Regions from separate parts of the Homo sapiens genome. Here all the other regions are linked to region 1. The links come from fine-mapping of genetic effects on gene expression. A gene starts in region 1. Each other region holds a variant in brackets. All regions are shown on one strand. Distances are between the middles of the regions.

The links. PIP is the estimated chance that this variant, and not a neighbour inherited with it, causes the effect. A credible set is the group of variants that fine-mapping cannot tell apart.
Region 2: its variant is the best candidate, but not a certain one, in a credible set for the expression of DELE1 in testis (GTEx, PIP 0.79).
Region 3: its variant is the best candidate, but not a certain one, in a credible set for the expression of DELE1 in whole blood (INTERVAL, PIP 0.58).

The regions. Positions count from the first base shown.
Region 1 is chr5:141,919,769-141,929,593 of GRCh38, reverse strand. DELE1 (DAP3 binding cell death enhancer 1) reads right to left here and starts at 5,723. Exons shown (of 12, transcript NM_014773.5): 1 at 5,622-5,723; 2 at 4,899-5,013; 3 at 4,067-4,184; 4 at 1,296-1,443; 5 at 1-12. The coding sequence starts at 5,652. RefSeq lists enhancers at 1-273, 5,329-5,842.
Region 2 is chr5:141,946,381-141,956,205 of GRCh38, reverse strand. PCDH12 (protocadherin 12) reads left to right here. Exons shown (of 4, transcript NM_016580.4): 1 at 1-1,234; 2 at 4,616-4,713; 3 at 6,623-6,774. It also overlaps a transcript of RNF14 not described here. Among named protein-coding and RNA genes, the nearest start is that of PCDH12, 6.9 kb to the left of the region's middle. The variant T/C (reference allele first, on the strand shown) is at 5,227.
Region 3 is chr5:141,810,958-141,820,782 of GRCh38, reverse strand. All of the region lies in intron 1 of LOC107986454 (a long non-coding RNA gene), which reads left to right. Among named protein-coding and RNA genes, the nearest start is that of PCDH1, 63 kb to the left of the region's middle. RefSeq lists enhancers at 3,151-4,141, 4,142-5,133, 8,185-8,833. The variant C/T (reference allele first, on the strand shown) is at 4,005.

The DNA of each region.
Region 1 (9,825 bases):
GTTGTCGCAGTGCTGGAAAGAGCCAGCAAGAGTAGTCAGGTCTGGGCCAGGCGCGATGGCTCACACCTATAATCACAGCACCTTGGGAGGCCGAGGCGGGTGGATCACCTGAGGTCAGGAGTTCAAGACCAGCCTGGCCAACATGGTGAAACCCCATCTGTACTAAAAATACAAAAAATTAGCGGGGTGCAGTGGCACATGCCTGTAATCCCAGCTACTCAGGAGGCTGAGGCAGGAAAATTGCTTGAACCCAGGAGGCGGAGGTTGCAGTGAGCCAAGATCACACCACTGCACTCCAGCCTGGGTGACAGAGCAAGACTGTGTCTCAAAAGAAAAAAAAAGAGTGATCAGGTCAGAAGAGGATCAGTGCAGGCTGCTCGGGCTTGACTGAGTCCTCCCTGAGGTTTTAGAGGCCATAGGAAGAATTTTGAAACTCCTGTGACACTTCCTTCACACTCCTCCTCCTCTGTTTCCTTGGCTTCCCTCCAGAGGAGTCTAGAGGGGCCTGTATTTGTGCTGATCTCCCACCCTAAGCATCAATCACTCCTCTGCCTAAATTCTTCAGTGGCAGGGAGGCATCTACCTTACTCACTGTTGTAGCCCCAGTACCTAGCACTTTCTTTGATAGCAATATTGCTAATGATTATCATCATAATAAGGACAAGAACTAATGCTTAAACTAATAATTACTACACACTTACTATGTGTCAGGCACTGCCCTAAGTCCTTGACATGTATTAACTCATTTAGTCCTCCCAAGAAACCTATGGGGTGGGTTTTATTATTACCCCAATTTATAGATAAAGAAACCGAGGCAGAAGGAAGTTAAAAGTGACTTGTTCAGGGACATAAGACTAGTATGCAGCAATTTTGGGACTTGAACCTCTATAATCTGACTCCAGAGCCTCAACCACTAGGCTATGTTGCTTCTGCACCATGGCACATAATAGGTGCTCAATAAAGATTCATTTATTTATGAATGACTGAGTGACTGACCAGAGAATAATTTAACTGGTTGAATGTGGGCCAGGAAGCCACACCCAGAATCTAAAGTAGTCTGGACCCTGTGGGCCTCCCTTGGTTGGAGGTGATGGGAGGAAATGGAAAGACACTGAGGGGCAGGTGTGGCCCATGCCCTGGGTGGATAGAACTTCCCCACATTCCTCTTCCTCTGACTTCAGATAGGAAAGGCAAGGAGCTGCTGATGGCTCTTTTCCTGAGGTGTGTCCAGAGACGCTTCCTGGCCCAGAGAAACGCCCAGCCCAGCCCTCCTGTCCCCAGGACTGAGAACTCACAGGAGCATGGGTGCCACAAGGGAGATGAGAAGAAACGGTCCAGGGGACTGTGCCAGGAGCAGTGTTCTACCCGCTGAGGTCCTGCTGGCAGGGATGCCTGGAAGTGGATCTGCCTTGCCAGCTGCAGGGCCAGCACGGCCAGAGTGCCCTGGGAAAGACAGCACGTTAAGGACACGGTCCTTCACCAATCAACTCCATCAGACCCGGCCTTATTCTCAAACATCACTTCCTCAGGAAATCCAGGTGGGGCAGCTCCCCGACTACAAACTTTCACAACACCCTAACTTCTCTGGAGCCCTGACCACACTGGCATTTAAACAATCATCTCTACATTTATTTATCTAAGGTCTGTCTCTCCTGTTAGTCTATAAGCACGACATGGGCAGGGACCATGTGTGTTTTACTCACCAATGTATCTCTGGTGCCCAAGTACAGCACAGTGCTAATATATAGTAGGGACCTAATAAGTACAACCTGAATAAATGCTTGATCAAGTGACTAAATAAGCGAAGACTAAGCAGGCAAAAAGATAATGGGGTAGGTTGGCACCTAGTTGCAAATATAGCAACAGGTCAGAGTTCCCCATTAGGCTCTCTTTCCAGTCTTGCACAACCCCTCCTTCCACCAACTCCCATTCCCCCAGTGAAGCCACCCCAGCACACACACATCTCCAGGTGTAAGCTTTGTAAAGGTGTTTCTTCTCTGACAGGTCTGCAGAAGACCTGAGCTAGCTCTTATCCCAGAGACTCCTTGGTTTTCCCTGTCTCCTGTCTCTCCTTATGTTATGCTTAAGAAGGTTGACCCAGGGTCGGGTGCAGTGGCTCATGCCTGTAATCCCAGCACTTGGGAGGCTGAGGCAGGTGGATCACTTGAGGCCAGGAGTTGAAGACCAGCCAACATGGAGAAACTCTGTTCCACTAAAAATACAAGAATTAGCCAGGCGTGGTGGGGCACACCTGTAATCCCAACTACTCGGAGGTTGAGGCATGAAAATTGCTTGAACCTGGGAGGCAGAGGTTGCAGTGAGCCAGGATCGCACCACTGCGCTCCAGCCTAAAAAAAACACACAGGTTGACCCAGATACTTACTTGTTGCTCCAGGCACTGCATACAATAGCAAGTAAGACAGACATAATTTCTGCCCTCATGAAGTTTATATCTTGTGTTTAGAAAGACAAAACACAACTACAGAGAGAAATAGAGTAATTACTAGTGATGTTAAATGCCAAGAAGGAAACTAATCAGAGAGTTACACAGAGCATAAAAGGGGTCCTGACAAGACAAGGAGTCAGGGAAAGCCTGTCTGTGGGGGTGACGTGTGGGCTAAGGCCAGAAGAAAAGGCACCAGCATTGTGAAGAACAGAGACAAGTATCCATGGTACTGAGGACAGCTTGCGTGCAGACCCTTTCATATGAGCAGTAGTGACAGAGCACAGGGATGGCATTGGGACTTCTGGAATCCAGGCCCACTTCCTACTTCTCACTATGGGACAGCCCTAGGGCTCAGATCTTCTTTGGCAACATGGGAAAATGCTCCTCTCTTCAGGGTATGATATGGCCTTAGTCCACAGCTCCCCATAGAGGGGTAACCCTGTCATGGAGACATCCCAGGCTCAGCTCTGCTGATGACACCAATTTACAGATGAGAAAGCCAAGGGTCACACAGGTCAAGTCATTTGTCCAAAGTACACAGCACGAAAGCAGCAGGGATGAGCTGTGACAAACATGAGAGTGATGTGTGTGTCAACTTCATTCAGAAGATCTTATAAGCAGAACTTCCACCTGGAACATTGCCTGAAAAGCGAAGACTCTGCCCTATGAGACCTAGTGTTCACTAGTAAGAATCTGACCTTATAGATCAGGTTCAACAAATATTTTTGAGCAACTATTACGGGCTAGGCTCTGTATTTGATGCAGCAACCAAGCAGTAGAACATGAACTCCAGAGTTAAATCTGGCTCCTCCACTTAACAGGTATGAGACCCTACGCATGTTACCTAATATTTCAGAGCCTGAGATTCCTCAGCTGTAAAATGAAGGTGATATTTCCCTTGTAAGATTTTTGTAAGGATTACACAAGATAATGCATGTATAATACTTTACATTAATAAATAATGCTATAAGGCCGGGCGCGGTGGCTCACAGCTGTAATCCCAGCACTTTGGGAGGCCGCGGTGGGTGGGTCACGAGATCAGGAGTTCGAGACCATCCTGGCCAAAATGGTGAAACCCCGTCTCTACTAAAAACACAAAAATTATCCAGGCGTGGTGGCACGTGCCTGTAATCCCAGCTACTTGGGAGGCTGAAGCAGGAGAATTGCTTGAACCCGGGAGACGGAGGTTGCAGTGAGCCAAGATCATGCCGCTGCACTTCAGCCTGGGCGACAGAGAAAGACTCTGTCTCAGAAAAAAATAATAATTTAAAAATAAAAAAAATGAATAATAAAAAAAAGATGCAATGTATTATTATTTATTGTAAGATCCATGAAGGCAAGAATGTATCTATCTTGTTCTCTGCTATGTCCGTAGTGACTAGCAAAAATGCCTGGCCCAGACAAGGTGTTACATAAATGTTTACTGAATTAAATGAGGAAAACATACATGGCGGGGGTGTGGAAAGTGGCAATATCTCCTTGAATATGCTCCAATACCATGGGTTACTTGTTAAATGGACACAGTGATTCCCTAGCCCTTGTTCCAGGTTCGGCTGTATACCCATGAAGGATCATTCTCATCTACACTGAAGGTCAAGGACCAGGCTGGGGAAGCCTTACCCAAGATATGGCATCCCATAGGGTGTTCGGGGAGACACGGGAAGACATCCATTGGAAGGCATCCTTCCATCCATGGGACCTTGGACCCCCGCTCGTGCCTGGGCCATGGGGACCTGACCTAGATGATGAAATAAGAGGCTATCAAGTAGGGGCAAAGGGAGACCAGGGACTGGGTGCGGTGGCTCACACCTGTAATCCCAACAATTTGGGAGGCTGAGGTGGGTGGATCACGAGGTCAGGAGTTCAAGACCAGCCTGGTCAAGATGGTGAAACCCCATCTCTACTAAAAATATAAAAATTGGCTGGGTACAGTGGCTCACACTGTAATCCCAGCACTTTGGGAGGCTGAGGCGGGCAGATCATGAGATCAGGAGATCAAGACCATCCTGGCTAACATGGTGAAACCCCGTCTCTACTAAAAATACAAAAAAAATTAGCCAGGCGTGATGGTGCATGCCTGAAATCCCAGCTACTTGGGAGGCTGAGGCAGCAGAATCGCTTGAACCCAGGAGGCGGAGGTTTCAGTGAGCCAAGATCGCGCCACTGCACTCCAGCCTGGGCGACAGAGCGAGACTCTGTCTCAAAAAAAATAAAATAAAATAAAAATTAGCAGGGTGTGGTGACGGGTGCCTGTAATCCCAGCTACTCGGGAGGCTGAGGCAGAGAACTGCTTGAACCTGGGAGGCGGAGGTTGCAGTGAGCTGAGATTGCCCCACTGCACTCCAGCCTGGGCGACAGAATGAGACTCCATCTCAAAAAACAACAAAAAAAAAAAAATAAAAAAAAAGGGTGACTAGGGGAGGAAATGAGTGGTAAAATGGCAGTATCTTACCTGTCGAGGTTAGGCACAGGAACCAGCAAAGTGGAGGAGGTAGTCTGAGGCCCATCTGGGCTGGTGGACTTAGGAGTCACCCTCCAGAGGCTAGGTCCCAGTGTACGGGGAAGAGCTGTACAGAACAACCAAAACTCAGGCACCTCAACAAGAACCCAGGAATCACTGTCATCTGCCTCAGCAGAGGTTCTTAAACATGGATACACATGGGAATCTTTTATCTACTACAGATTCTAGGGTAGTACCCCAGAACCAATAAACTAAGATTTCTCAGGGTAGAGCATCCACGTTTTTTAAAAGCGCCCATGTGATTCTGCTGGTCTCCTGTGGATGCCAACCACTGTTCTAAGATGACCAAACGTTCATACATATACTCTCACTAATGTTTGGGGCTCTTTGACTCTAAACCTCTCCTCTCTTCACTGGCTATGCCTACTCCATTGGCCCCTAATCCTCTTTCATTCATTCAGTCCACCATCTCCTGCCATTGGACTCCTCCCCCTCCCAACAGTCCTACCAACTTCTTGGACTCCACCCTCTTCTAGCTAGGCCCATCCACATCTCAAATTCCAGCAGCCCCTGACTTCCCCGCCCTCTTTCAAGCCCCGCCTTCCTTGGCTCTAACCCGGCCCACGATCGCTTCGGCTGTTTCCTCGGGCCCGCCCCCACTCCAGTTCGGTCTTTGCGGCCCAGAGTGACGCTGGTTGCTTGGACGTCCCTTACCTCGGCCCAGGAGTCCCGGGAGGCGCCACATGTCGCTGCCAGCACCACAGAGAGCTCGCAGCCGAAAGCGCGAGACCAACCCTTGGGACAGCGGCTAGAAAGGCCGCCGCGATGCCCCGAGTGGCCGAGTACCCGAGGAAGCTCTGAGCTGGCCAATTAGAAGGGAGCCCGGCCGGAAAGACGGCGCTGCAGAGAGGAAGTGCAGGGCGGAGGCGTATTCGGGGCCAGCGGGGCGGTGACGTGCGGCAAGGGCATGGGGATGTGGGCCCAGGCTTCCGTGGGGGATGTCCTTGGCGTTCCCAAGCCGAGGCAGGGGACCGCAGGTGGCGAAGCGAGCCACCCGGAAGCGGGACCTTCGGGAAGTGGGGCTGGAGCGGCTTCAGGGAAGTAAGAGGACCTTGCAGACCGTGAGGCCGCGAACCAGGAAAGGCTTCTCCAGGCCCTAGGCTTGAGGAAGTGGGAGTAACCAGGCTCCATGGGCGGAGGAGAGGACCCCCGGGGTCCCACAAATGAAGCCAGTAGGCCGGGCTTCCGTCCAAGGCCACCTGCCTGGAGATGCCAGGCCAGGGCCCGACTGCGTAGGCGATGAGAAACCGCACAGGGCAAGGCTTTGATTCTGGGTTCTAGCTCCGGTCCAGCTTTATCTCACTGTGCAGCTTCATGCCAACCCCTTACCTTGTCGGGGCCCCAATACGCGCCAGATAGGGTCAAATGGAATGACTGGCCTGACAAGCTGAGATTCTTGGGTAGCTCCTTTCAAAATACCTGAGACACCACCCGCGCCCTATTAGAACCCTCGTCTTCAGACGTGGCAAAAGTTATGTATGTGTTTGTTCTTTTGTGGAAAAGAATAGTTCCGTCTGGTCCCGGTGGCTCACGCCTGTAATCCCAGCACTCTGGGAGGCCGAGGCGGGCGGATCACCTGAGGTCAGGAGTTTGAGACCAGCCTGGCCAACATGGTGAAACCCTGTCTCTACTAAAAATACAAAAATCAGTTGCGCGTGGTGGTGGGCGCCTGTAATCCTAGCTACTCTGGAGGCTGAGGCAGGAGAATTGCTTGAACACGGGAGACGGGAGGTTGCAGTGAGCCGAGATCGCGCCTGGGCGACAGAGTGAGACTCCATCTCAAAAAAAAAAGGAAAAAAAAATAGTTCCTTTCACCACATTTGAATCCGTGAAATAACGGAGCTTACATTCAAGTATAAGATGTTTAGATTTCCTCCCTATCCCCTTCCTCCAGGTATGTGACTTTAAGGTGAGTGGAAGTTGCTACCTGGGGTAAAAGTGTACTGGGGGCACCTACTTTTAGACCGAGGCATGTGGCTTGAAAGTTGTATTAATATGTTAGACAACTTTTTTTTTTCTTTTGAGACGGATTCTCTGTCGCCCAGGCTGGAGTGCAATGGTGTGATCTCGGCTCACTGCAACCTCTGCCTCCCAGGTTCAAGCGATTCTCTTGCCTCAGCCTCCCAAGTAGCTGAGATTACAGGCGCCTGCTACCACATCCTGCTAATTTTTGTATTTTTAGTAGAGACAGGGTTTCACCATGTTGGCCAGGTTGGTCTCGAACTCCTGGACCTCAGGTGATCCTCCTGCCTTGGCCTTCCAAAGTGCTGGGATTACAGGCTTGAGCCACCGTGCCTGGCCGTTAAAGAACTTTTGAGCCATATATCAGCCCGTTCTAGGATCTGAGAAGACAGCTGAGGAAAGAGCATTTGTGGCCTCCAGGAACACGGTCCAGTGGATTAGTAGTGGGCTTTGGAGTCCCACAAATCTGGGTTGGAATCACAGCTTGCTTACTTCGTAGGTATGTTATCTTGTGCAGGTTCCTTAACCACACTAAGTCTCAAGAGCTTCATCCGTAAAATAGGGAAAATACCTCATGCAATTGTTGTGAGGTTTAAATAAAATAATATGTTAAAAATGTTTAACTTGGTGTTTTGGGAATACCCTTCAAAAAATAAAAAATAAATAAATAAAAATGTTTAGCATAGTTCCTGGCACATAGTAAAAGCCCAGTAAGTGTAAGTTGCTATTAATTATATTAGTAGGGGAGGTAAGCAGGCAAGTGTAATAGGTTAGGTTCCCATAGAAGCATGAACAATGGATTGTGGGATCCCTTGGAAGGCTTCAGAAAAGTAGTTGCATTTGAGCGGGGCCTTTAAATGTGAATAAGAGCTTGCCAGGTGGAGAAGGAAGAAAGGCATTGCAAGCGGAGGAAACAATAAATAAAGGCCCAGAAGTTTGAATGTTGGACAACTATTCAGAAATAGCCTTGCTTCGGGATTTGGGACGGCAACCTTTCACATTCCTTGTGTTGCTGTCCCGAAAATAAAGTAACAAACAAGTATGCTGGTTTGGCTGTGTTCTTCCTCCTGCGTCTTTTGTACCCTCCTTCCTTTCAGACTATCCATAGTTTGTGTCATTTCTCAAGGTTCAGCCCAATCCCAGCTCTTCAGTGTAGACTCCTCAACTGTTTGAGCCCTCCCTGCTCCCTACTTTTCCCAATTCCTATAGCACTTAATTTCTTACTACACAGTTTAGCAGTAATTATATGCTGTCTTGGTATTTATCTCATTTGTGTAACTCTAGCCTTCCCAGTTCTCTCCTTTCAGGACAGGAATAGCATTTCCCTATTCCGTGTCCCACATAGGGCTTGACATAAATTGTCAGCCCAAAGAATATGTCCAAACAATCCCTGTTGACAGAACATCTTGTACTAATGATTATTACAGCCAAGGGTACCAGACCCCAGCCAGGGGATTTACTGATTTGAGTGGAAATGTATTCATTGCAGATACAAACATTCATTGAGGGCCCTCCCTGTTTGAAGCTAGTTGAAAAGTTTTGAAGGAGAGACTAGGACATCTGCCCCCATGTATAGAATGGCATTATGGCATCTCTTGTCCCCATAAACAGAAACATCAGACCACTTGTGTGAGGGTAGATGGCGAGGGTGGCTGGAGCCCACAGCAGATCACCTGTTGAGTGCAGCTCACGGGAGTGCTGTTGGTTGAATGGCAGCTGCCTCAACTGCCAGACCCCAAACTCTGTGGTTTTGGATTGTGGCTCAGTCCCTCTACACAGTCCCTCAAGTTGACTCAATCCTCCACAAAGGTAAACTGACACTGGGAACCTATTGCCTGCTGTCCAGTTAATCACCTTTCATGATGACTACACATGCCATTGTGTACTTTGTGTACTGTCACTACAGTGAGTATTCTAGATACTTGTTGCCTTCATTTTTGTAGGCATTCTTAATTTGCATTAATCAAATATATGACAGCTTATTTAGTGCTAAAGGATATGCTAAGTATATAACAATTTTAAAACATGGATGTGGGCAGGGCGCAGTGCCTCACGCCTGTAATCCCAGCTCTTTGGGAGGCCGAGGTGGGTGGTTCACGAGGCCAGGAGTTCAAGACCAGCCTGGCCAACATGGTGAAACCCCATCTCTACTAAAAAAAATACAAAAAATTAGGCGTGGTGGTGCGCATCTGTAATCCCAGCCATTTGGGAGGCTGAGGCAGAAGAATCACTTGAACCCAGGAGGCAGAGGTTGCAGTAAGCTAAGATCGCACCATTGCACTCCAGCCTGGGCGACAGAGCAAGACTCTGTCTTGAGGAAAAATTAAAACAAAACAAAACAAAACATGGATGTGGTCCTTGCCCTCACAGAAAATAGCCTAGGAGTGCAAACAAAGTCAGTAAGCAATTAAAATACAGAGTGGTGTTTTAGTTACTTATTGCAGCATAACAAACACCCCAAAATTGAGTGGCTTAAAACAATCATTATCTCTCACAGTTCTGCAAATTGACTGGGCTCAGCTGGGCAATTCTGCTGGTCTCACTTGGGGTCTCTCATGAGGTTGTAGTCAGATGGCAGTCATATGAAGACTCAAGTAGGGCATTGGAAAGGCTGGGCCTCTTTCTCCATGTAGTCTCAGGTCCCCTCTGCGCCACATGACCTCTCCAGCTGTGTCGCTGAACTTCTTACACAGTGGCTCAGAGCTTCCAAAAGTACACAAGTGGAAGCTGGCAGGAACTGGCATAGCATCACTTCTGCACTCTGTTGGTTAAAGCAACTCACAGGGTCAGCCCAGAATCAGTGTGGGAGGGGAAAACATAAGGTCACAAATACTGGGAAGTAGACTTTGGAGACAAGCAAGTGCTGTTGTGAAGAAAGTACAGAGTGCTATGGGAA
Region 2 (9,825 bases), 27 kb before region 1:
CTCTGTGTGGGTCAGCCTCTTGGATGCCAATGATAATGCCCCAGAGGTGGTCCAGCCTGTGCTCAGCGATGGAAAAGCCAGCCTCTCCGTGCTTGTGAATGCCTCCACAGGCCACCTGCTGGTGCCCATCGAGACTCCCAATGGCTTGGGCCCAGCGGGCACTGACACACCTCCACTGGCCACTCACAGCTCCCGGCCATTCCTTTTGACAACCATTGTGGCAAGAGATGCAGACTCGGGGGCAAATGGAGAGCCCCTCTACAGCATCCGCAGTGGAAATGAAGCCCACCTCTTCATCCTCAACCCTCATACGGGGCAGCTGTTCGTCAATGTCACCAATGCCAGCAGCCTCATTGGGAGTGAGTGGGAGCTGGAGATAGTAGTAGAGGACCAGGGAAGCCCCCCCTTACAGACCCGAGCCCTGTTGAGGGTCATGTTTGTCACCAGTGTGGACCACCTGAGGGACTCAGCCCGCAAGCCTGGGGCCTTGAGCATGTCGATGCTGACGGTGATCTGCCTGGCTGTACTGTTGGGCATCTTCGGGTTGATCCTGGCTTTGTTCATGTCCATCTGCCGGACAGAAAAGAAGGACAACAGGGCCTACAACTGTCGGGAGGCCGAGTCCACCTACCGCCAGCAGCCCAAGAGGCCCCAGAAACACATTCAGAAGGCAGACATCCACCTCGTGCCTGTGCTCAGGGGTCAGGCAGGTGAGCCTTGTGAAGTCGGGCAGTCCCACAAAGATGTGGACAAGGAGGCGATGATGGAAGCAGGCTGGGACCCCTGCCTGCAGGCCCCCTTCCACCTCACCCCGACCCTGTACAGGACGCTGCGTAATCAAGGCAACCAGGGAGCACCGGCGGAGAGCCGAGAGGTGCTGCAAGACACGGTCAACCTCCTTTTCAACCATCCCAGGCAGAGGAATGCCTCCCGGGAGAACCTGAACCTTCCCGAGCCCCAGCCTGCCACAGGCCAGCCACGTTCCAGGCCTCTGAAGGTTGCAGGCAGCCCCACAGGGAGGCTGGCTGGAGACCAGGGCAGTGAGGAAGCCCCACAGAGGCCACCAGCCTCCTCTGCAACCCTGAGACGGCAGCGACATCTCAATGGCAAAGTGTCCCCTGAGAAAGAATCAGGGCCCCGTCAGATCCTGCGGAGCCTGGTCCGGCTGTCTGTGGCTGCCTTCGCCGAGCGGAACCCCGTGGAGGAGCTCACTGTGGATTCTCCTCCTGTTCAGGTACCTGGGGCATGGGCAGCTCTTTCTCTGGTCACTCCTGGACCACCAGAAACAGAATCAGACACCCCCATAACCTGCACAGTCCTCATGTTTCTTCCTTAGGCTCACCTGGCACTTTCTGATGCTTTGGGTAGCAATGGTTCAGGGCACAGCTTTGTGATCGGCTGAACTTAGCTGTGTGATCCTAGGCAAATTCCTTACTGTCTCTGGGCCTTAGTTGTCTTATCTGTAAATTAGAGATGATAGTAAGAGTATCTACCTTGTAGAGTTGTCCAGAGGATTTGATCAATTAATTCCTATAAGGCATTTATGGTGCCTCACAAGTAGACACACAGCAAAGGTAGTGATTAAGAGTATAAGCTTTGGGCAAGGTTACCTGGGTTCAAATCCTGGCTCCACTTCTTCCTAGCTCTGAACCACAGAGGAAGTTAACATCTCTGTTGAAGATGTCTATGTTAACACCACCCATCTTCTAAGTTTGCTTGAAAATAAAATGAGTGAATGCTCTTAATGCCTGTAGAACAGTGTCCATCTGACATGTAGTCAGTACTCAGCAAATTATTACTATTACTTCCTCAAAGCACTTCTCCATCTCCACTATTTGCCTGCCTTCATCTCATCTGGGCAACTTCCCTATGAAGAAGGCCAGCATAGGCATCATTGCACCCAAACCCAGGTGTTGCAAATAATTTGTCTGAGACCCCAGAGCTTTCCGGCTGGGCCTGCGGATGGGGCAGTGGAAATTACCTTAGAACTTAGCAGTTAGGCAGATTGGAGTTCAGATTTCAACACAGCCACTTAGGAGCTGGGCAACCTTGTACACGTCCTTCAACATCTGAGCCTCATTTTCCTCATCTATAAAATGGGGATTATGAGACCAAACTTACCCTGTGTCTGCCTCCTTAGAGTGTGAGGGCTAAATGGGATGATGAGTGTCAAAATGTCTAAGGACCTGGGATTTTCTAGACACAAGTGGGGAAACCTTTCCAGGGATGATGCCTGATCTCACACCCATATCTGCTTCTGTGAACCTCAGATATTTTCACTGTGCCAGGCTGCCCGCCCAAGGCACACTTCTGTTTGGCCAGGCTATCAGCTCAGGTTTCCTGTGAAGCAAAACACAGTTTCCTTCCCTATTCCCTCCTCAGGAAGCCACCTGGAGATGGCCCAGCTGTTCTCTTAGGAATCTTGCCCTGGGATCGGTGCAGACCCAGAGGCTGCCAGAGCCAACCATTCATTTATCCTTCCATTCATCCATCCATTTATCAGGTGCTTTTTGGATAAACTCTGTGCTGAACACTGTGCTGGCTGCTGGTAGACAGGACAACAGAGAATAGGCCCTGTGGGTGACCCCGCTGAGGTGACAGAAAGAAAGGTGCCCATTTGGGATCAACTTGAGGGTAACAGGCAACTTGCCCAATGCTCATATCTTTCCAGCAGCACATAGAGTCAGATCTGAGTGTAAATTCCAGCCCTCCCACTAATTTCTGTGTAGCCCCTGTGAGCCTCCAATTCCACCTCTGCAAAATGGCCATAATGGTATCTCTTCCCTTAGGCTGTTGTAAGAATTAAATGAGATTATACACCACTGGACAATCACTGTTTATCATGGGATTTATTAATAAGCTCATTTAAACCTCGTAACCCACCATATGACCTGGGTCTCATTAATATGCACTTTTTTTACTGTTGAGGAAACTGAGTAATTTTCTCAGAATGCTTAAGTAATTCCTCAAGGCCACACTGATGGGAACTGGGGCAGGGACATATTTAGGATTTGAACCTGAGTCTGACTGATTCGAGTCTGGGCTGTAACTGTGAAGTGACCCTGAATGACAGTGCTCAGCATAGGGCTTGGCATGTAGGGAGTCATGTCATGAAAAGGCAGCTGTCACTTGAGCAAAGGGTGGCAGGTATCTTAGGAGGGCTTCTGGGCCTGGGCTGGGAGGTGGGATCTTCCCTGAGGCAGGCAATAAGACCCCGAGTCTCCCAAGTCACAGTGAAACCCCAGTCCTGGCCATCTCCTCTTCCAACTCTCCTCTGAGGTTGACACTTCCTACCTCAAGCTGCACAGAGGGGCATGGTGGACCTCCTAAGGGAGGAATGGGGATGGACCCAGGAGGAGGAAGCAGTGTTTCTAGGAATAACAGTGCAAACTCCTTGCTTTTGCAGAGGATTTTTAACTTTTTCAAACCATTTAATCGTGACAACACTGAGAAGAAGGCGTGTGGGTATTTCTAGCCCCCTATTAGAGATGAGGAAACTGAGGTCTGAGGAGGTCTAAAAACCTGTCTAATGCTATACAATAAGCTACAAATGGCCTTGAACTAGAACTCCGCCTCCCAGGACTTGATCTGTTGCCTCTCCCTTCCAATGGCCTATAGGGTCTGGCCGTGATATCTCACCCATCCCCTACTCCATTCTCCAGTCTTTCTGAAACTCTACCTTCTCTTCCAGCCTTTCAGTGTGCAGTGCTTCTGCCTGAAAACCTCCCCACCCCTTGCCCAGACCTTCATTCTCTTTCCACTTGCCAAACTCCTATGGAGCCTTTGGGTCTCAGCAGAGGTGCCTGGCATGTGGTATGAACTCAGTAACATCTGTTGAAATGAATGAATTAACTTAATCCAGTACCACCCCCCTGCTTCCTCCCTGCTCCAAGTTGGGTTAGGGGCCCTCTGCTCCCACAGAGCCCCCATTCTTTCCCTATGCCCAGAGGCAACCCCTGTGGTAAACACTCTTCGCTGCCCTGATCTCCAGCCAGCCTCCCTGTGGGGCTGCCTGCAACCTTCACATCCTGACAGATGTGACCACGCTGAGGGCAGCAGCTGGGGCTCCTTCTCCTTCTTACTCCCATAGCAACCACCCTGCCTGGCACTTATTAAGTACTTGTTGAATGAATGAAAAGATGAATAAATGAATAATTCAATGACACCATTTTGCCTTCTCTACAACATAGTCTTACATCTGGTCAACAAAAATTGGCCGAATGTCCAAATACTGCTAAAGGGGAACATAACTCTTTAAGATAATCTTCATCAAAGTAACAACAAATTGATGGTCAGGAAATGCCTTTTTCACCCCATCTCTCAGAGTCCACCAGGTGCAGGACACTCGGAGGAATGAGTATGAGGGGACAGGCCCAGAGGGTCCTCTTGCTCTCCTTCAGACACTCAGGTCCTGGGGTGACATGACAGAGCAGGGGACCTGCCCGCCCAGGTCCCTGTCTCTGTCACTGGGCACCATCCCCCATCTGATCACACAAACATCTGAAGCCAGAGGAAAGACTATAAAAAGAAAGCACCGGCATTGAGGGAAACATCCGGCGAGGAAGTGTGCTGAGTCGGAATTGTGTGGAGTCAACAGATTTTTCCTGTCTTGTAGCAAATCTCCCAGCTGCTGTCCTTGCTGCATCAGGGCCAATTCCAGCCCAAACCAAACCACCGAGGAAATAAGTACTTGGCCAAGCCAGGAGGCAGCAGGTAAGCAGCACGTAGCCCCCACAGGCATCTCAAGGCCCCTACTGGCCGCCCCTCATCACTGCAGCCTCTGTGAGTGAGGAAGGGTGAGCACAAGTCAGACACCGGTCCCCTGGGAGGGTGCAGCAGACAGCATCCATCCTCCCACCCTGGGAGTTTTGGTCGTGAGGTGACTGTATTGATAGTATTTACAGGACCTAGAAGTCCTGTAGGACTAACTAGCTGTATTGATAAATACCATCAATACAGTAGTCACCAAGGAAATGACCTCATCCCTGAGACTGTATTTGTCCCAATTACAGAGGTGCTGTAAATTGCCTTTATATCTGTAACTGTCACCTCTCTTTCTCTTGACCCATAAACATAATATGAAGGCTCCCCACTAAAGACATGGCTGTGTGGGCGTGTCCCTTTGGGCAATCCTAGAATTGAAGACACCTTAAGAGAACATCAAATCCAACTTCTTGTTACGGATGGAGAAACTGAGGCTCTGAGTAGCTTGATTCAAACCAGCTA[T/C]GTAAACTTGAGCAAGTGAGATAATCTCTCAGGACCTTGGTTTCCCCATCTGTAAAACAGAACCCATCCCATTTCCCTTGTGGTAATGGGGTGAGGATTTCATAATCAATTGTATTCTAAGCCCATAGCCCAGCAACTGACACATAGTAGGTGCACACACAATGCTAACTCCTTTCCCCTTGAAGCAATTTTGCTAAAGGTCATGTAACAAGTGAGTGGCAAAGCTGGGACCAGCTCTCAGAGTTCCTGACTCCTGCATCAGTGCTCTTGCCCTGACAACTTACAGCTTCTTTTTACAAGGATGGTGAGAGGTAGTGTACTGCAGGGGTGAGTCCACACACTCCAGGGTCACACTGGCCTGGATTTGAAGTCTTGCTTTATCTCTTAATCTATGGGGACCTTGGGCAACCTGCAAAATCTTCACAAGTCTTGGTTTTCTCATTTGTACAATGGGTTGATTAAAGAGAACCCCTTACAGGTGTGGAAGGTTTGAATAAGACGGTGCATGGACCTTGCATCGCATAAGGCCTGACTCAGACTCACTGCTCAAAAACATTAGTTGTCATTATCACCCACACACTTGCCACCTCCCTGCTCATTTCTTCACAGCAGCAGAAATGGCTACAGGGGAACAAAACCAAACAAACAGAAGGACTCCTACGCCTTAAAACCCCTCAGGTAGCCTTCCCACCTGCTGGGATGAGGGTCCAGGCCTGTCCCCAAGTGTCTATGGGAGAGAGGGACCAGGATGGAGACAGCAGGAGACTGGGGTGCAGGTAGCAGATTCTGAGCAGCTTTAGGCTGCCTCACTCCGGCTGCACCCTCCATAGGTCTGCTCTTCTGGCCTAGGATTTGGCCTAAAGTAGGGAGGAAGGAATGTTCAGTCACTCATTCAGCACCCACTGTGTGCCACGCCCTGTTCTGAGCATCAGTAAGGGAGCAGGCAATGAGACAGGCAAAAATCCCAGCCTTCTCCTACGGACGGATGGACGGCTGCACTGGCTCCACTGAGGTTTACTAAACTCCTCCTGTGTGCCAGGCAATACCTAGACATGGGAGGGGCAACGAGAATGATATCAATGAACTCATCTTCACTTCTGTCTGCTGAGTGCTTACAATGTGCCAGGCTCTGTGGTAGGCCCCTCTACCTACAACGTCTCATTTTACCCTCACAACACCCTGTGAGGTGGGTGTTATTTATTACTCTCATTTTACAAATGAGGAAACAGAGTAAGAGGAGGGCGGGAATCACATGATCCAGGTTGGTCTGACTCTAGAGGCCAGGCTGTGTATCCAGTTCCCTATATGGGTAAATGAATGCAAACATGAATGGGCATGAATGAATGAATCTATATGGGAATGTCCCTACCCATGGACTGGTTGGTTTCTTTTGCAGGAGTGCAATCCCAGACACAGATGGCCCAAGTGCAAGGGCTGGAGGCCAGACAGACCCAGAACAGGAGGAAGGGCCTTTGGATCCTGAAGAGGACCTCTCTGTGAAGCAACTGCTAGAAGAAGAGCTGTCAAGTCTGCTGGACCCCAGCACAGGTAGGGACCCCCTGGAGTTACCTTGACCCTGCTTCTGCCCCATGGTGTCCAAGCTTCAGAGTTCTGCTCCAATCCACTGCAGGGAAAAGCCATTCTGTTTCTGTGGAGGAACATCAGCAACATTTAACTTCCCTTGCACCCTTGCAGCCTCAGAAAGTATTTTAAAGACCAGGTTCTACTTTGATTTTTTTTTTTTTTAGACAGGGTCTTGCTCTGTCACCCAGGCTGGAGTACAGTGGCATGATCACAGCATGATCACAGCTCACTGCAGCATTGACCTCCTGGGCTCAGGTGATCCTCCCACCTTAGCCTCCCAAGTAGCTGGGACTACAGGTGAGCACCACCACCACATCCCGCTAATTTTTGATTTTTTTTTTTTTTTGTAGGGACAGGGATTCACCTGTTGCCCAGGCTGGTCTCCAACTCCTGGGCTCAAGCAATCCACCCACCTCAGCCTCCCAAAGTGCTGGCATTAGAGGCATGAGCCACCTGTAATCAAAGCCAAAGTAGGCACCTGGCCTACGTTGATTATTCATTTTAAAAATCATTGTAAAAATAGTGAACATGCCAGGCACTGGGGAAGCATCTTATGTACATGATCTCATTTAAGCCTCCAACCAATCCCCTCAAGTAGATAATTATTACCTCGAATTTACAGATGAGCAAACCGAGGCTCAAAAAAATCAAGTAGCCTTCCCAGAGTCACCCAGCTCACCAGTGATTGAAGGGGAGCCAAACCCTGAGCCAGCCTGTCCTCTATGGACTTCTTACCACTCATTGGCGTTTGGTGTGTTTCAATACCCTTTCACCCTGGGAACCAGGTCAACTCTTTAATATGCTAACAATTGCAATGAAAACAAAAAGATTTTTTTGCAGAGAAATAATTAGCTTTGACAATAAATACATAATGTGAACTTGAATTCAAGAATCTGCTAGCGCCCCCCGCCCCTGCTGTGGACATTGGTCAGCCTCCTTTGGTAACACACCCCACGGCAGACCATCCCTGTGCTGTGGTTTTCTATCTATGTAGTTAACACTGTTTCTCATGTGCTCCATCTGGCTGCAGACACACTGAAGGTATGGCAGGGACTTCTCTTTCCTTGGTTAAAAAATATTGCTAATGTTTATTGGGCACTTTCTATGTGCTAGGCCCTGTTCTAAGTACCTCATGAGAAAATCTTATGAGATAGGGGCTATTCATTATCCCCATTTCATAAAGGAAAAATGTGAGGGTCAGGGGTGTTTCATAATTTGCCCAAGGTTGTGCAGCTCGTGGATGGTTATTAACACAGGCAGTGTGGCTGTAAATTTTAGAGCTGTGTTGTTCAATGAGGTAGTCACTAGCGACAAGTGGCTATTTAAATTTAAGTGAATTAAAATTAAATAAAATAAAATATTCAGTTCTGCCATACCAGCCACATTTCAAGTGCTCACTGGCTATGTATGGCTGGGGGATATAGCTTTGGATTCTATCTCTATTGGTCAGCTCTGGCTGGAACCTGTGGGGTCAGTTCCCACACGGTCCTGCTTGCCCACAGCACAAAGGGTACTGAACACAGGGGCACTGTAAGGAGTTGGGGGTAAGGAAAGAGGAGGGGCAGAAAAGCCTTTGCTGCTCACAGGCTGGACTGCCATGGGGAGACTGGGATCTTGCTGCTTCAGATCTGCTTCAGATTGCTTCAGATTTGCTGCTTCGGATTCAGATTGCCCCACTTGAGAATGCGACCATGATAATGTTTTCCTGGTTGCATGAACTCACTGAACCTCACAACAACTCCACAAGATACGTACTACTGTCTCACCACTTCCTAAGAGGAAACGGGAGCTTAGAGAGGTTAAGCCATTTTCCCAAGGTCACACACACTGCCCCTAAGCTGCAAAGCTGGGAAATCAAACCCAGGTTGGCCCAGTGCCCACCTGCAGCTAGAACTGGTGGGTGATGCTGGGTGAATTCAGCATCACTTTTCAGCTGTTCTCATACGCCCCAGTGATTTTCTCATTCCAAGCTTCACTCCTTCTGAAGCTCTCTGACCCATGTAAAAGGAAAGGCCTGATTCTATAACACCAAGAGTTCCATCCAACCTTATAGCCTCAGAGTCTCAAGGAACTAAGGTTTGCATTTCCCAAATGTTGAAGGTTAATATTTATGTTCATTCAATCATTCAACAAACATTCACTAAGTCCCAGGCATGGGGCTAAACCCAAGGATCCAGTAGGGCAGGAGCCCAACAGTGTCTCACAAGCTGCACAGTCCAGAATGCAGGGCAGAGATTCATTTATCAGTACAATAAATGACTACACATACTTCGGAATAACTTGTTCAAATTACATAAGTAATATTTGGTTAATATAGAAAAACATAGATAAACAAAAAGAGAATGGATTGCTTCTGCCCAGAGGTAATTTCAGTTAACATTTTGACATATCTCCTTCCAGTCTTTCATTCTGTGCGCAGATTTTAAAGTAACTCACCTTAGGCAAACATTAGATAAATGTTAAGTAGATGTTGTGCTTTTTTTTTTTTTTTTAATTTTTTTAAGACACTGTTTCTTAACTCCAAGACTTATAATTTCTTTCCTCTGGCTTGGTCTCTACCATCAGGCCTGGGACTGGTTTCTTGAAACAGGATTTTCTGTTAAAGGGATGGGAAAAGAAGGGTGACTGTGGCATTGCAAATGTAGGGGCCAGTTTTTTGAATTCCCAGCCACCAGGCTGACTTGCCACCGCCACTACCCCAGTCCCTCTCCTGGGACAGCCCTTGGACAGGCAGCCCCTCCCCAGCCTGACTCTAGGCCAGGGTTCCAGCAGCTTGAGAGATGATGTTGAGGAGGATTTGAGGATCTGGGGCCAGGTGGTAACAGTGCAGACCTTAGGTAGCCTGGGAATTCCAGAGGCCCCAGCTGGGCACCTGGAGTATCCAGGGGGAGGAAGGGCCAGCTCTTCAGAGAGAGGGTAGGGTGGTGCCATCATAGGCTTCAAAGTCATCAGACCTGGCATCAAATTGAGGTTTGGTTGCCTAGCAGATGTGTGACTTAACTTCTTTCAGCTTCA
Region 3 (9,825 bases), 110 kb after region 1:
GGCATGGTGGCGCATGCCTGTAATCCCAGCTACGCAGGAGGCTGAGGCAGGAGAATCGTTTTAACCTGGGAGGCGGAGGTTACAGCGAGCTGAGATCGCACCACTGCACTCTAGCCTGGGCCACAGAGCGAAACTCAGTCTCAAACAAACAAACAAACAAAATCCATACACACACAGAAAAACTTCTGGCACCGTTGCCTATCAGCTTTTTCTCAAACTGTGTCCTCTTCCTAGAATGGACTTCTCCTATCTTCCCACCTAAGTAAGTCCTACCTTTGCGTCAAGGCACAGCTATAGCCATTGTCATGGTGGGGTCCCAGAGCAGGGACTCTGGCGTCTCCTCTTGAGCTTGAAAATCTACTCTGCCGCTTAATAGCTGTGGAAAATTTGGGCAACTCGCTTAATCCTCCCTGAGCCTTAGTCTCCCCATCTGTAAATGGGATAATAATAGCAATCACACATACCCAGAGGCTTAAGAGTGAGGATTAAATCAGAAAGGTCACATGTAAAATGTGCTTACACAGTAAGTGCTCTATTAAAGTGGTAGTTATTTAGAATGATACTCTAGTAAGCTATCCCAGAGCTCCCCAACTGGGAATTAACTGTGTCCCACTCTGACATGTACCTTGGGAACACAGGGATTCCACCTTTAGGGTTTCTGACTAAATCATTTTTCACAGTCTGCCCTGAATCAGCTATTATGTAATGAATCTGGCAGTCCCTAGCCAAGCTTTGCACTTAGTAGGTACTTGCTAAGACAATAAATGCTTGTTTAAAATATTGCCCACCTAGTCAAATTCCCAAACCCTGTAAAACCCCACTAAATTCTAATCTATTTGTCCTGAGTCCCACACAATGCCTGGTTCAGCCACTTCCAGTAGAGTGGGAAATGGGGAGCAGTGGAAGATGGGCTGGGGCCCCAGGAGGAGAGGGGAGATGAGAGGTGGGAAATAAATGGAGCCTGTAAGGGGTTTTACTGTGTCCAGGCCACATGGATCAATCTGTTTTCACTGCCCCTCCATAGGGCACTTTAAATTCCACCCTCGTCTTTGATTAACCAATGGCTGACCTGAGACAGGTCTGCTTGTGCAGGTCCTCATCCAGCCAGAGGAGGTGTATATTGATTAGCTAGACTAGGGCAATGAACTGTACAGGCTCTGGATTGCCTAAAAGGCCCCTTGAGAGGTGGTCCTTGTGGGCGAGGGAAATCTCTGAGTCACCGTGGGTACTCATGCACTTGCCCATGAATAACCATACATTTATATGTGTATGTTTGTGGGTAAATACTGGCCCTTTTATCTTGGTGTGTATTCAGTAATTCATTCATTTGTTCATTTATTATTTATTGAGGCCCTACTGTGGGCTAGCACAATGCCGACGCTAGAATGTGGTAGTCGCTAAGGCAAAATTCCTGCCCATACTGAGCTTTTTTTCTAGCGAGTGGAAAGAGTAACAGTAAAGCAAAGAAATTAACAATTTAGTTTTAGATCGTGAAAGTGCTGTAAAAATAATAAAACAAGATAAAGGGATAGAGAGCAACAGTGCATGTAGAGGGAGCTCCTTTAGGACGAGTGGTTTGGGTCAAGACCTAAATGATGAGAACAAATCAGCCTCAGAAAAAATCTGGAAACAGAGCATTCCAGGCAGAGGGCACAGCAAGTGCAAAAGCTCGGAAGAATTGCTTTGGGCCAGTGACTCTAGGAATCTGTGTCATTCTGAGGCAAATGTCAATCAGCTTTTATTGCACGTACACATTTGTATCTTTCCATTGCTGTTAGAATCATGCCAACCTCCTCACTGAGACCTACAGTCTTACAACCCCACCCACTGGCCTCCAATCCCATTGGCTTCTTCAGGTCCTTGAATAAGATGGATTCCCTCCTGCCACAGGATCTTTGCACAGTCTGATCCCATCACCCTGCATACTGTTTCCTCCCCTCTTTCCAGAATTAAATCCTTTTTTCTTTCTTTCTTTCTTTCTTTCTTTCTTTCTTTCTTTCTTTCTTTCTTTCTTTCTTTCTTTCTTTCTTTTTCTTTCTTTCTCTTTCTTTCTTTCCTTCCTTCCTTCTCTTTCTTTCTTTCTTTTTTTCTTTCTTTCTCTTTTTCCTTCCCTCTCCTCTCCCCTCCCCTCTCCTCCCCTCCCCTCCCCTCTCTCTTCTTTCCTCTCTCTTCTCTTCTTGCCCAGGCTGGAGTGCAATGGCACGATCTCGGCTCACCGCAACCTCTGCCTCCCGGGTTCAAGCAATTCTCCTGCCTCAGACTCCTGAGTAGCTGGGACTACAGGCATGTGCCATCACACTCGGCTAATTTTGCATTCTTAGTAGAGACGGGGTTTCTCCATGTTGGTCAGGCTGGTCTCAAACTCCCGACCTCAGGTGATCTGCCCACGTTGGCCTCCCAAAGTGCTGGGATTACAGGCGTGAGCCACCGTGCCTGGCCTTTTTTTTTTTTTGAGATGGAGTCTCACTCTGTCACCCAAGCTGGAGTCCAGTGGCACAATCTCTGTTCACTACAACCTCCACCTCCCAGGTTCAAGTGATTCTTCTGCCTCAGCCTCTTGAGTAGCTGGGACTACAGGCATGTGTCACCATGCCAGGCTAATTTTTGTATTTTAGTAGAGATGGGGTTTCACCATGTTGGCCAGGGTGGTCTTGAACCCATGACCTCAGGTGATCCACCCACCTCAGCCTCCCAAAGTGTTGGGATTACAGGCATGAGCCAGTGTGTCCGGCCAAATCCTACTTTCTTTAGCTCTCAGGAAGCCTACGGTGGGTCACCCTTCTACCTTCTACACTAGATCAGTTTCCTTTGTTAGATGCTTTCATATTACCAAGTTCCTATAGTCAACTTCTTATCTTACTTAGTAATTATGCATTATCTTATCTGATATTAGTATCTGACTTCCCACCAGAATTACAACCCTCTGGGAAAGCTGGTTATCTGAGATTTTTTTGTTTGTTTTTTGAGACATACTCGCTCTGTTGCCTGGGCTGAAGTAGAGTGGCCCGATCTTGGCTCACTGGAATTTCTGCCTCCCAGGTTCAAGCAATTCTCATGTTTCAGCCTCCAGAGTAGCTGGGACTAGAGGTGCCCGCCACCACGACAAAGCTAATTTTTGTATTTTTAGTAGAGACAGAGTCTCGCCATGTTGGACAGGCTGGCCTTGAACTCCTAGCCTCAAGTGATCCACCTGCCTTGGCCTCCCAAAGTGCTGCGGTTACAGGCATGAGTCACATTCCCAGCCTGAGGGCTTGTTATCTTACCTGTGTAACTTATCTGTATCCCCTTTATACAGGGGAATATATTGACAGCCTTCAAATGTGTTCTATGTTCAATATATTCAATATATTCAGTATATTCAAAATATATTGGCAGCCTTCAAATTCTGCGAGGCTGTCACATTGCAGAGGAAGACCATGTTAACATAGGAGCAGGGAGGTGAAGAAGTGGGTTGTTAAGGAGAAGTGGGTGGGGTTCCTTCTAAGGAAGGTCTTATAAGAATGAGAAGTTTCAGGGGTAGAACAGGTGCCTTAGGAGGTAGTGAGTTCCCTGTCCTTGGGGGTCTGTAAGCAGACAGGAGAATAGAGGGAGGTGCCCCAGGGAGTCTTCATGTCAGCATCAAGGTTCTGTGATTAGTAGTCCACCAGCTGACCAGGTCCTTCAACCCCAACGCAGCTGTAACAATGGGAGCCCCAGGTGCTGAGTGGTGCTGGGTCTGACCCAGTGAGATAAGCGTCTGACTTAAGGAACTTGGGGGTGGACAGGGTCGTTCCCAGCTTCAGACTCCATCAGGGACTCTAGGTGGCTGCTGCTCCCCCTCCTTTCTGCCTAGCTCTGAAAGGGCTAGGAAGGAGGGAAGGCAGCGGGTGGGGGTGGGAGGAGGAGCTTCCGCAAGTCTTAAGTGGCTCCCCAGCTGGAGCTATGGTGCATATTTTAAGTGGAGTTTACAGACAATGGATCTCTCTAGGGCTTGGAGGGGAAGGAAGCAGAAATTCAGGACCATT[C/T]TGTGAATTCCCAAGTTCTTTGTGTCCATTGTGTAGGGAACAATGCTGTTTGTTCGGCACATTCACTCAAGATGGGGGATGGGGGGAGATGGTTAGGCCCCAGTGTTCCGAGGTTCTTCGAGGGGCGGGGCTGCTCGGGGAAGGGGTGGATGGAAGCTGGAGGGGCTGGGGGTGAGCCTTAAGGGAGGTGAGGATTCCAAGTCTGGTTGTGTGGGTTTGAGCTCCAGGACAGCTCCCTTTAGTACAAATATTGCTTCCCCTCTACACCTCTCCACCCTTCTCCAGAGATTCTAATCCTCAGAGGCTTCTGACCTTGATGTGTTGTCCAAAGGGTTGGGTTGGGGGGCTGAGGAGGAGTGAAGCTGTCTGTTCACCAGGTAACCTTGGACAAGCCACTGCCTCCCGGAGGCCTCACCCTCTTGCTCTATTTCCACAGTTGAAGGGCCAGCTAGAGATGGTCTCTCACAGCCACAAAATTAGGTCCCTTCCATACCACATCCTCAATCTCACCAAGCCTGGGCTCCTTCCTGACTCTCACCCAGTAAGTTCACAATCTTGGTTGCCAGTGGAGGCTGTATATCCCCAGAGTGAGGGAAATGAGAGATGAGGCCAATGTAGGGCCTAGAACCTCACTAATAAGAAAATCTTCACTTACTGGTTAGTTAGCAGCTGCTGGACACTGTGCATACATTCTCTTATAGGGCCTGGGATTAAAAGCTCTGCTCCTAGCCAGGCACAGTGGTACTGCACACCTGTAGTCCCAGCTTCTTGGGAGGCTGAGGCGGGAGGATTGATTGAGCCCAGGAGTTCGAGAACAGCCTGGGCAACATAGCAAGACCCTGTCTGTTAAAGAAAAAGTCCCATAGCTGGGTCACCTTAACCACCTTAACATCTCTGAGCCTCAGTTTCCTCTCTGTAGGATAAACTAGATATAGTAATAATAATATCTACCTCACTGGGCTGTTATGAGGATTAAACGAGATTACATCTCAAGCACTGTCTCTGGAAGGGTGGTAGAGCTTATAAATATTGGTCATATACCTATATATAATTACTATCTCCATTTTTCATATATGGAAAGCAAGTCTTGGAGAAGGTAGGCATCACACAGTGAATAAATTAGGGCATGATAATTCAAATCCAGGCTGGTTGATTCTGAAGCTGAGTTGCTGACCATTGCTCAGCACCTCCTGCAGAGATGGGATTGATGCCTGTCCTGACTTTCCAACAGCACCTGCCAATGGTCCAAAAGCCAAGTTTCCTTCTCCCAGCAGGAGAAGTTGCATTGTTTAACCAGGGCTGGAGTCTGAGACTCCCCTCTAGCCCTTCCCACAATCCTACTGTAAATTAGAGTCCCCTCACTCCCCAGTGACCTCTGCAAGGTAGTGTCTTATGCTGGAGGGGCACCAGAGTTAGGGACAGGAGCAGCCTCAGTACTCCTAGGCTGAGTTCCAGAGCCCAGTTGTTGCACCTGGCCTCTGAGCTACAGTTTGGCTGGTGGCTGGAGACCTGGGCCTGGAGGCTGGGACCTGGCCCTGCTATGCTTGGAGCCATAAGGCCATCAGACAGCCTGGCTAGGTCTTGGATCTCCACAGAGATAGAGCTGGGAGAGGCACAGATCCATGAACTGAGACAGATCTGGGAATGAGAGTAGACACTGGAGCCTTGGAGTTGGGGGGTCCACAGGTTGGCAGAAGGCACTGAGCCATGGCTCCTTCCCATTCCTGTCCTACCCCTCATCCACCTTAGTCCTACTCTTGCCATCCATTTCTCTCTCTCTGGTTTTGGGTTCTCCATTGAATAAGAAGAGGAAGAAAAAAAGGGAGAGAACTGGGGGAAGGGGTGTCCACTTTGCCAATGTGAAGCAGCTCTTGTTCTATGAATGAAGGTGATGCGGGTTCAGGGTGGAGGAAGGGGGGTGGAAGGAAGTGCTGGGTAGGGCAGCCTGGGATGGGGTTGCCATGGGAACGGCAGCCTGTCAGGAGCCCTGCCTTCAAAGCTGAGGTGCCTCCTGGGGGAGGCGGGTGGTGTATGCGTGTCTGGGGTCGGGGAGCAGCTCTGATGTAAGCCCCCTGGGACTCTAGCTCCTGGATTCCAGATCAAAACCTTAACCTGGGTGGGAAGCAGCATCATGCGATGCTTCCTGTCAGACAACCCTCAGCCTCAAACCCTTTTCTGTGGAATGTAAGGCAGGGATGGGGGTGGAATCAACCCTGGTGGGAGGCGGGCTGTGATGGAAGTTGTCTGCCAACACTACCCCCTTCATTTCAAATGGGGCAGGAGGGAAAGGGGCTCTTACTGGGTGGAGGGGAGTAATGGGGAAAAAGGGGGTTTGCTTCATTCTCTAGGCCTCGGTTAGGGGCCAGGCTCCACAATGACAGTTTCCTGAGGCATCTGGCTCCAATTCCTCAGAGAGCTTGGAACCTAGGAATAGGGCTCAGAGGGAAGGAAGCCCACTGGGCTGTTTGTGAGATCTCCAGCTGCCCTCACTCCCATCCCACACCACCGCTACCATGACCCTCTGGCCACTAGGGGGGGCCATGGCCCAGCATCCATGGGGTTGAGGGACAGGTCAGTCCAGAGACCCAAGGTGGCCCAGTAAGGTAGTGTGGCTGAGATGTAGCCTCAGTGGCATTTGCCTTTCATGAGGTTGGCCCAGCTCATCCAGGCCCCAGCAAAACCTGAGGGCCTTTAGAGGGCACTCAACACCCTGGCACTGCCAATTCAGTCCCTCCTTCTCAGCTGCCCAGGCAGACCTTTCCAGAGACCACCAGCCAATTCAAAACAGCTCTCAAGTGCCTACTACTCGCCAGCACTGTGCTAGGCATTGCCAGCGATTTTGAATCTAATGGGGGAGATGGACACTAACAGAGGCTTAAAACACATGCACCGAAGTCAGGAAAACCTGGGCTTGAATCCTCACTTTACTATTTCTAACTGGGTGAGTGACCTTGTGCAAGTTACTTAATTTGTGTCTCAGTTTCCTTATCTGTAAAATGATAATAGTACTGGAGATGCAGGGAGCTGTGAGGAGGATTAAATGAGAAAGCATGCTTAAGGCCTTTGCTGCAGCATCTGGCACACAGGAAACCCTCACTAAAGGGAACTATTGTTAGTAGGTGAACCAAGGTGCTGAGTACTAGCATGGAGGTAGAAGCAAAGTGACGAGCAGTCCTGGAGAAAATAAAAATTCAATCTGGGCTGGGCATGGTGGCTCACACCTCCTAGAACTTTGGGAGGCCAAGGCAGGAGGATAGTTTGGGTCCAGGAATTCAAGACCAGCCTGGGTGACATAGAGAGATCCTGTCTCTACAAAAAAATTTAAAAATTAGCTGGACATGATGGCACGTGCCTGTGGTCCCAGCTGCTCGGGAGGCTGAGGTGGGAGGATTGCTTGAGCCCAGGAGGTCGAGGCTGCAGTAGGCCATGATCATGCCTCTGCACTCCAGCCAGGGTGATGGAGTGAGACCTTGTCAAAAAAAAAAAAGAAGGAGGGCTGGGCATGGTGGCTCACGCCTGTAATCCCAGCACTTTGGGAGGCCGAGGCAGGCGTTATCACCTGAGGTCAGGAGTTTGAGACCAGCCTGGCCAACATGGTGAAACCCTGCCTCAACTAAAAATACAAAAATTAGCCGGGCATGATGGTGGGTGCCTGTAATCCCAGCTACTTGGGGAGGCTGAGGTGGGAGAATCACTTGAACCCAGGAGGCAGAGGTTGCAGTGAGCTGAGACTGCACCACTGCACTCCAGCCTGGCGACAGGGTGAGACTCCATCTTAAAAAAAAAAAAAAATAGAAAACGAAAAAAAAAGAAAATTCAATGTGTTGAGATTATCAGGGAGGGCTTCTTGGATGTGGTGCCTGATATGGGCCTGAAGGAAAGACAATATTTCTATAGCAGGGTTGGTAAGGGCTGTAGCAGGTAGAAGGAACTCCAGGAGGAAAGGCATTTAGGAACCTTACTTTATTTCATTCTTGCAGCACAAAATGGCAGCCCTATGTCTCCCTCCTGGGGCGTCTCTCTCCTACATCCCTATTTCCAGAGGCTCTCCCACCCACCTGGAACCCTGCCTTGGGCTCCCTCCTCCTGCTCCTCCTCCTCTTCCTTTCTCTTTCACTCCCACTCCTATTCATCTTCTTCTTCCTCCTTCCTTCTTCCCTAGAGAAGCCAGCTCAGAGAGAGCACGTTTCATAAACAGTGACCACTGCCCTATGAGTGCCTGGACCAGTAGCTCTCACCCAGGGGTGGTTTTTTCCCCCCAAGGGACATTTGGCAATGTCTGGGGACATTGGTTGTCACAACTAGGGGTGGGGGGATGCTGCTAGCTTCTAGTGGGTAGAGGCCAGGGATGCAACTAAACAATCTACGGTGCACAGGACAGCCCGCACAACAAAGAAGCACCTGGTCCCAAATGTCAATAGTGCTGAGGCTGAGAAACCTTGGCTTAGGCAGAGAACTGCAGCTGGGGAGAAATGCAGCCCCCTGCCCCGGGCTCCTCCAAAACCCCACCCCAGGAGTCCCTGATCCCCTTCCCCAGTCTCTTCCCATCTTCTAGTCCAACCCTCAGTGTCCCCTGGCCTCATACTACCCACCACTCCTGCGCGTCTGCCCCCTCTCCTCGGGTCTTGTCCCCGCTCTTATCCTCTCCCACCGCAGGGGCTGTGGAAGGCCTGTCAGGCAGGAGTCAGCCTGCGGCTGCACGAGGCTTCGGAGACCAAGCTGCCTGCTGCACTCGGTGCTGCCTGTCCACTGATTGGCCGAGGCTGCCGTTTCCATGGTGATCTACGGCAAAGCCCAGGCCCCCCCACCCCCTTAGCCCCCGCGACAGGCCCTATTCAGTGGCGAGAGCCCCGACAGTCAGGTTAATAAAACAGGAGCCGCGTGAGGAGCCGGGCTGTGGGCCGAGGTCCCAGCGTGGTGGCCCGCCCGGAGGAGAGGGGGACGGATGGGGGCAGGGAGCGAGGAGCTTGCTTGCTGCCCAGTCGCCGCCCTCCCCGACTCTGCCAACTGCAGGTTATGGGGCTGCACCAGCTCTCGGGGACTTGGGGTTCGTCTCCTGGAATGCACCTTCCCATAGTGGCCTCTGGGGGCAGTGTCCCCTCCCCCATGGGTTCCACTGGGCCCCTCTAATCAGAAGGGTTGGAGTTCTGGGGCTGGGGCTGAGGAAAGGGAGAGATGGAGATGGGGTAAAGAAGAAAAATGGCAGGGAAAGACTAGAATGGGAATCGGGTGGGAGACTGGGGTGAGATGGGGATGGATGGGAGTGGAGTCCAGGTTGGGGATGGAGAAATGAAAAGGGGAATGAGGAAGGAGATGGGAATGAGGCCAGGGGGAGGAAGGGATGAGTTGGAGGAAATGGAAGGTAGAGACCTGCGCATGGAGAAGAGGCTGGGATGGGGAGAGGGAGGGAGCTGGTGGAAGGTGCAAGGTGGAGAGGAGCATGGGATGCAGGAAGAAGGTGGAGATGAGAAATTGGGATGGGAGCTAAGATGGAGTGAGATGAAGAAGGATGGCGTGGGAGAGAGGGTGGTTAAGAAGGGTACGATGAGGGATAGAGTGTCTGGGAAATAGGCACAGCCTCTGACTAGCTCACCTCTATGCCCAGCACAAGCGCTCAGGAGGTGTGTGCTTGTCACATAGTCCGTGCTCACACGTGTTTGTGGATTGAATGAATGAGGTGAGAAATGCTGGGCTGTAGCGGGAGAACTCTCCTGCTGGAATCAATGCCACACCTCTTCCTCAATATCAACACTGAGTGCTCACAGTGGAGTCTGTGCCAAACTCCTTCATGGATGACCCCATTTAGTACTTTCAATAATCC